Linked DNA regions of Homo sapiens. The protein of the gene in region 1 purifies or fractionates together with the protein of each later gene. This does not show direct contact. Each region holds a gene or a part of one and is shown in the gene's direction. Other genes may lie near its edges.

The links.
Region 2: the proteins of TOM1L1 (region 1) and AARS1 fractionate together in Homo sapiens (co-fractionation; one large-scale study listed by BioGRID). This does not show direct contact.

Annotation. Positions count from the first base shown.
Region 1 is NC_000017.11:54,914,301-54,918,121, forward strand, and holds part of TOM1L1 (TOM1-like protein 1), read left to right. Parts: intron 1-338; coding exon 339-443; intron 444-1,445; coding exon 1,446-1,562; intron 1,563-3,821. UniProt on the Homo sapiens protein: Probable adapter protein involved in signaling pathways. Interacts with the SH2 and SH3 domains of various signaling proteins when it is phosphorylated. May promote FYN activation, possibly by disrupting intramolecular SH3-dependent interactions.
Region 2 is NC_000016.10:70,282,989-70,286,809, reverse strand, and holds part of AARS1 (alanine--tRNA ligase, cytoplasmic), read left to right. Parts: intron 1-3,821. UniProt on the Homo sapiens protein: Catalyzes the attachment of alanine to tRNA(Ala) in a two-step reaction: alanine is first activated by ATP to form Ala-AMP and then transferred to the acceptor end of tRNA(Ala). Also edits incorrectly charged tRNA(Ala) via its editing domain.

The DNA of each region.
Region 1 (3,821 bases):
TTGTTATTAACAACCCAAAGAGAAGGCATCAATAATCTCACATGGCAGTTTATCACTTAGACCCTTGGTTAAAAAAAAAAAAAAAAGGGCATTTTATTAAATTGTAAATGATAATCCTAATAGCCACCTTTTGTTGAATACCTGCTTTATTATGGGCATGTCATTTGCTTAGCATTCTTCACAAAATGCTGGACGGGTTGTGTAGCTGATGATTTACTCTGGGCAGATACCCTGTACACAGGACTTTGAGAGTGCTTGAGTTAGCTGAATGGAAAAAACTTGGCGTTGGGTGGCTATGTTAATTCACATAATAATATTACCATGTTTCATACTCATAGACTGCTCAAATCTCATCAAATCCTCCAACATCTGTCCCTACTGCACCAGCTCTTTCTTCTGTAATTGCTCCAAAGAACTCGACTGTTACATTGGTCCCAGAACAGGTAACAACAACAATCATTGCATTTAATTGATGTCTTTTCCTGATTTGTAAGCACCTTATATACAGTTTGTCTTTTCTGGTTAACAACATTGAGATGTAGGTACACTCATTTCACAGAGGAAGAGACTGAGGCTTAGTAATACTATGTGACTTACCATAGTTCAGTTCCAAGAAGGAGTAATCCCATGGGTTCTGTCTGCTTCCAAAGCCCAACTTTGTAAGAGTTGTGCTTGCCTAGCGGCTTTCATGGCTTTCTGGAGCCTTGACTGTGGACTGGATCTAGGGTCCATCAGCTAATTCCTGTTACTTCTGGTAGGACTGTCACATATTTCAGAGAGTTTAGTAAATGGTAGTCTTATTACTTGTATTTATTATGCCAACTGAATTGTATTTACTTCTTTGTGTATATCAGTTTATCCAAGGTACCGATAAACAATTATTATATGAGGCTAATTTCCGTTCTGCTGTAAAGGAACTATAATTGAAGATTTTGTTGTATTATTTTTTTCTTATATAAAAATGCATGTGACTAATTCCTCTTAGAATTTAATACAGGAAGAAAAGGTGTTTCTTTATTCCTTCTTCTTTAATACCATGAGAACTGGATAACCCTCATTTGTTTTTCTTTTACCCTATTGGTTGCCAAGAAACTCAGGATAACTTTTGCCATTTTATCCAGGTTTCTGGTACCTTCTTCTGCTAGGTACCTGGTACTTCTCCCCTCTCCATATTGGGTTCTAATCTTTTTTTTTCCTTTCATTTTTAAAATTCCTAAAGCATATTTTGGGGTTTATTACAAGAGATCTCAAGTCCTTTTAGAAGGTGACAAGGTATACATTTGTAAAATAACTATATGTATATTTATATGAAATTAAATTTAAGTTTGAAAATATTAAATTTTGCAAAAGCATTTTTTCATCCAGCAAATGTCCCATGGGGGCAGGAAACAAGGTAGTTATTCTTTGTGTGTCGCACTGACTGGTGATTGTGTTGCTCTCTACAGATTGGAAAACTGCACAGTGAATTGGATATGGTGAAAATGAATGTGCGAGTGATGTCCGCCATATTGATGGAGAATACTCCTGGGTCTGAAAACCATGAAGACATAGAGCTTCTGCAGGTGTTGTACGATTTCAGGGACTATCAGTCAAAGTGTCTCTTAAAGTTATTCTCTAAACTTTGAGTTTGGAGATGGAAGACACCTTAATATTGTCTAGTACATCCTCCTACATCCTGATTTCAGTTGATTTCTAAACTTAACAAAAATATCCAAGAATGACTTTGTCAGAAATGCAGTAGTAACTTAGACATGGTTTTTAGCCTCTTGCAACAAATAATTTATTATAAGTTATAACCTTGGTCATGTACAATCAATTCTCTAGTTGTTTTAAGTATGTAAAAATTGCCTCTATTTTCATCCACTCAACAAACATTGAGTAACTGTGATATAGGAAGGGATGTAGAAATGAGAAGGAGGCTATTCTAGTCCTTAAGAGTTTATGCCTAATGAGCAAGATTGGTTTGTAAACAACAAACATAATGAAGTATTATAGATACTGTAGTATAAATTTGTTCAGTATATGGTGGGATCATGGGTGGGGAGAAGGAGAGATGTGAGGTTTTTAAGAATGGTCTAGATGGAGGCAATGCTCGAGCTATAGAGGAACAAGTAGACAGGGCATTTAGACCTGCATGAGTAGTTCTACAGCCCTCCTATGCCTTCTGCTATGTCTGTGTATACATATACTTTATTTTTCCCTCTACCAGTTTGCTCTTCTAATTATTTTAAATTTTAAAACTTATTAATTTTAGAAGCAGTTAGAAAAAAAAATCAGTTTCTAGTTTCTAAGTCCCTTTGTTGCCAAGTTAAGAAGCTTAAGATATTTTTACTTTTCTCAGATTCCCACTCGCCACCTCTCATGTTATTTTTCCTTTAACTTCTTAGATTGTTAGTAAATAACTTTTTCCTTGCTCATTTCTTATTTGGGAAACAAAAAAATTGTAAAAATTTTCCCAACAATGTTTCTTAGATATCACTGCTGTCGTGAATAGTTTGTTTTTTCCTTGCTGCAGTACACCCATGTTGGTAAACTTTGGTGCAAACTTTGAGTGCTTGCATATCCAAAAATGTCCTCTGATTGTCATGTTAAATGCAGGTTAGTTTAGCTAGATATAAAATTCTAGGCACAAAATTCTAGGCCTTTGAAGATACTGCTTCACTGTTCTCTTACACCCACTAATGCTGATAGAAGTATTATATTATTCTGCTTCTTAATCCTTTGATTAATAATATTTTTTTCTAGTTGCATTTGTTATTTTTCTACGTTAATATTTCAGAAATTGTACTGTTCCCTCTGAAGAGATATATGTACATGTGTGCAGATGTTTGTTTAACTTACTTATCTTCCTTAGTAGATGATAGGCTTTTTTGCCTTATCAACTTATGTGTATTTTTAATTCTAGGAATTCTCAGCTCCTACTTTAAATATTGACTTTCTACCATTCTTTCTATTCTCTTCTTATGGAACTTTAAGACGATGAAACTTCCAGTTGGATTCATTTGTCTCTTAACATTTCTTTTATACTTTTCATTTCTTCATTCTAAGTTCTGGGATAATTTCTCTGTTTAATGTATTTCTCTAAAACTTGTAATTGAGTTGCTTATTCAGTCCTTCTAATAAATGTTTCAACAATTTCTTTCTATTAAAAATATGTACTTTAAACATATTTACTATATACAAATATGTACATAATTTTAAAATATTTTTAAAATATGTTGGATTTTTATAACAGTTCTTTCATTTCATGGTTCTGCTTTTCTTTATCTTTCCAAGGATAATAATTATATTTAACGCTGCTTTTTTGTTTGTTCTGTGGACTCTCCTTTGCAAATTTTTTGTTCATTTTTTAATTTGCATTCTCCAGTGTTCAGCTGGATTGCTGATAGTGAGCTCATTTTTGTGTGAGACTCTCTGCCAGCTGGTCTGCATTCTCTGCTGACCCAGCTCACCCATGCTGAAGGGAGGATGTAATTGCTACTGCTGTGCTTGATAATATTTTCAGAGTATGGTATAGCAACATGGGATGATGCTGTTTGGGATCCATTTATGGATGGTCTTCTGGATTATGTATTCTCTATTTTTTTCCTGAATGCTACTAGTGCCTAGAAATAATACCCTATCCCTCTGTCCCAATCATTGTTTCCACCTGGAAACATTACTCCTTTCTCAGCTATCTGGTCTCAAATGAGAGAAGGGGCATGAGCAGGGGTTGTCTTTCCTGGTTATTTCACTGCCGTACCTCAACCAATCTGTTAGAGCCCCTTGTGCTTCTTGGCTTCTGGCTTTTAGGCATGGAGCACCCTTCATATTCCTTCCAT
Region 2 (3,821 bases), on another chromosome or scaffold:
GAGTGCAGTTGATCTTGGCTCATTGCAACCTCTGCCTCCCAGGTTCAAGCGATTCTCCTGCCTCAGCCTCCCAAGTAGCTGGGATTATAGGTGCGTGCCACCACACCCCGCTAATTTTTTGTTGTGTTGTATTTTTAGTAGAGACAGGGTTTCACCGTGTTAGCCAGGATGGTCTTGATCTCCTGACCTTGTGATCCACCCGCCTCGACCTCCCAAAGTACTGGGATTATAGGCGTGAGCCACCCTACCCGGCCTCAAAAATTTTTTTTAAATACAAAAAAATTAGTCGGGTTTGGTGGCACATGCCTGTAGTCCTAGCTACTCCGGAGGCTGAGGTGGGAGGAACACCTGAGCCTGGAAGGCCAAGTGATTGCACCATTGCCTGCGCTCCAGCCTGGGTGACAGAGAGGGAGACCCTGTCTCAAAAAAAAAAAAAAAAAAAAAAAATTCCTGTGGAGTGGCTGGAGCCACAGCGTGATTTAAGGCACCCAAGACCTTTACAGCTCCTGTTAGTAAGTGAAACCTGAGGTTCTGCCTTTGTGCTACCTCTGTATCCCATATAGCCCTCCAGTGAATAAATCAATGAGTTTATGTTGAATAAATATATTGAATTTATATCGAATAAATATAAATTTAGATTGAATAAATAAATGGGGGTAAACAAATGAATGTGGGGATACAGCTTTTAATAGTTTCAGCCTTCATAGACTCATAGTTAATATATTCAGTCCTTTTACACAATACTGCAGTTAATTCTGCATATGATAGTCTCCTCAGGAAGGACATAGGCTGTCATTCATTTTGATTCTTGGCACATAGTATGCATTCATTATGGTGAATTAGTAAGCAAAAATGGGAAATTCATGTGTCTTTTGGAAAGTAGCTGGAGTCAGGATCTCCTGTTCACTTTGTACATCTCTATTGTATTTTCCTCATAAGGAGAAAACTTTGGCTGGGCATGGTGGCTCATGCCATCCCAACACCTTGGGAGATTGAGGCCAGGAGTTCGAGACCAGCGTGGGCAGCATGGCAATACTCCATTTATAACAAAAACAGAAATTAGCTGGGCGCGGTGGCTCATGCCTGTAATCCTAGCACTTTGGGAGGCTGAGGCTGGCAGATCACCTGAGGTCAGGAGTTCGAGACCAGGCTGAGGAACATGGTGAAACCCTGTCTCTATTAAAAATACAAACATTAGCTGGGTGTGGTGGCACTTACCTGTAATCCAGGTTACCCAGGAGGCTGAGGCAGGAGAATTGCAGGAACTTGGGAGGTGGAAGCTGCAGTGAGCTGAGATTGCGCCACAGCGCTCCAGCCTGGGCGACAGAGTGAGACTCTGTCTCAAAAAAGAAAAAAAAAGAAATTAACTGGGCATGCTGGTGTGCAACTGTAGTCCCAGTTACTTGGGAGGCTGAGGCAGGAGGATTACTTGAGCCTCGGAGTTTAAGGCTGCTTAAGTGATTGTCCCACTGCACTCCAGTCTGGACAGAACCAGAAAAAAAGAAGAAAACTTTCAGCTAAACAACTTAAAAGTAATATTATCCATTCTGTTCCTTCAAGGTTTTCCTTTTTTTTTTTTTTTAGACGGAGTCTCCCTCAGCCACCCAGGCTGGAGTGCAGTGGCGCAATTTCGGCTTACTGCAACCACTATTTCCCAGGTTCAAGCGATTCTCCCATCTCAGCCTTCTGAGTAGCTGGGATTACAGGCACTCGCCATCATTCCCGGCTAATTTTTGTATTTTAGTAGAGATGGGGTTTCACCATATTGGCCAGGCTGGTCTTCAACTCCTGACCTCAGGTGATCCACCCACCTTGGCCTCCCAAAGTGCTGGGATTACAGGTGTGAGCCACCGCACGTGGCGTAACGTTTTCCATTTTATAGATTGCTTCCAAATACAGTATAGCTTTTGATCCTCACAACACCTCAGTTGAGTAGGCAGGGTAGATACTGCTTTTTTACAGAAAAGGAACTGAACTCAGGCAAAAGTGAATTAAGGTTACGGTTGGGTCTGGAATTCCAGAGACTTTTTGATAATAATGATAATATTGTGAATAAGATGGTTCTCATTTTTCTAGACACAGCAGTTTGTGGCACTACAGCACCATGCCAGTGATCAGCACTCTCACCAAAGCCTGTCACTTCTCCCCAGCCTACCTCTCAGGGAAATCGTAATATCTGTGAAAGAGCTGTTTTTGTTTTTGTTTGTTTGTTGACACAAGGTCTCTGTCGCCCAGGCTGGAGTGCAGTGGCATGATCTTGGCTCACTGCAAGCTCCGCCTCCTGGGTTCACGCCATTCTCCTGCCTCAGCTTTCCGAGTAACTGGGACTACAGGCGCCTGCCACCATGCCCGGATTATTTTTTGTATTTTTAGTAGAGACGGGGTTTCACCATGTTAGCCAAGATAGTCTTGATCTCCTGACCTCGTGATCCGCCTGCCTCGGCCTCTCAAAGTGCTGGGATTACAGGCGTGAGCCACCGCGCCCGGCCATTTTTGTTTTTTTTGAGACGGAGTCTTGCTCTGTCACCCAGGCTGGAGTGCAGTGGCGCGATCTCGGCTGACTGCAACCTCCACCTCCTGGGTTCGTGCCATTCTCCTGCCTCAGCCTTGTGAGTAGCTGGGACTACAGGCGCCTGCCACCACGCCCGGCTAATTTTTTGTATTTTTTTTCTAGTAGAGACAGAGTTTCACCATGTTAGCCAGGATGTTCTGGATCTCCTGACCTCGTGATCCACCCACCTGGCTAATTTTTTTACTATTTGTACTGACAAGATCTTGCTATGTTGCCCAGGGTGGTCTCAAACTCCAGGGCTCAAGCAATTCTGCCACCTCGGTCTCCCAAAGTGCTGGGATTACAGGCGTGAGCCACCGCGCCCAACTTGTGAAAGAGCTTTGAAGTCATAAAGTTTTTTCTCTCTCCACCAGTTCCCTTGTACTTTCACTTTCAGTAAGCTGTGCCTCCAAAGTGGGGCTACAGCATCCCCACTCCCTGGTAATCTAATGGCTGGAAGGCAGCCGTTTGCTGTTAGGGTTCTTGGGGGATGTAGGCTACATAGAGGTAGGTACATTCCTGCTACATACAGGTGGTCCCTTGTACAGATAGGCCCATCCCCAGGACTATTGCTGCTGACAGCCGCCTCACCATGACATCAGGCCAAACCTAGAGACCCTGACTTTGGGGCTAGTGGAACTTTGCAGTTCTAGGCGTGTACATTAACACAGAGCTGAAGGGATCTTTAGAGATAATCTCATATGGACCCCTCCTTTTTTTGGTGAAGTGACTCCCTCAGGACTTGAAGCTAGAACTCAAACCCCGGTCTCCTGAGCCTCTCTCCCTCTTCCCCAGTTGGACTAAACTGAGGGTTTTTCTCCCCCTTTTTTTCTTTTTTTTTTTCCTTCTTTTTTTGTTTTTTTGAGACGGAGTCTCTCTCTGTCGCCAGGCTGGAGTGCAGTGGTGTGGTCTTGGCTCACTGCAACCTCCACCTCCTGGGTTCAAGCGATTCTCCTGCCTCAGTCTCGCAAGTAGCTGGGATTACAGGCACGCACCACCATGCCCAGTTACTTTTTGTATTTTTAGTAGAGATGGGATTTCACCATGTTGGCCAGGCTGGTCTTGAACTCCTGACCTTGTGATCTGCCCACCTTGCCCTCCCAAAGTGTTGGGATTACAGGCGTGAGCCATCGTGCCTGGCTGTCCCTCTTTTTTTCTAATTCCTAGTCTCGGGCCTGACACAGAGCAGATGCTCGATACATATTTGTTTAATGAACAAACATCCAGCAGCAGTGTGCTTGGTGTGCTGGGGTGTTGAACCTCTTGAGGT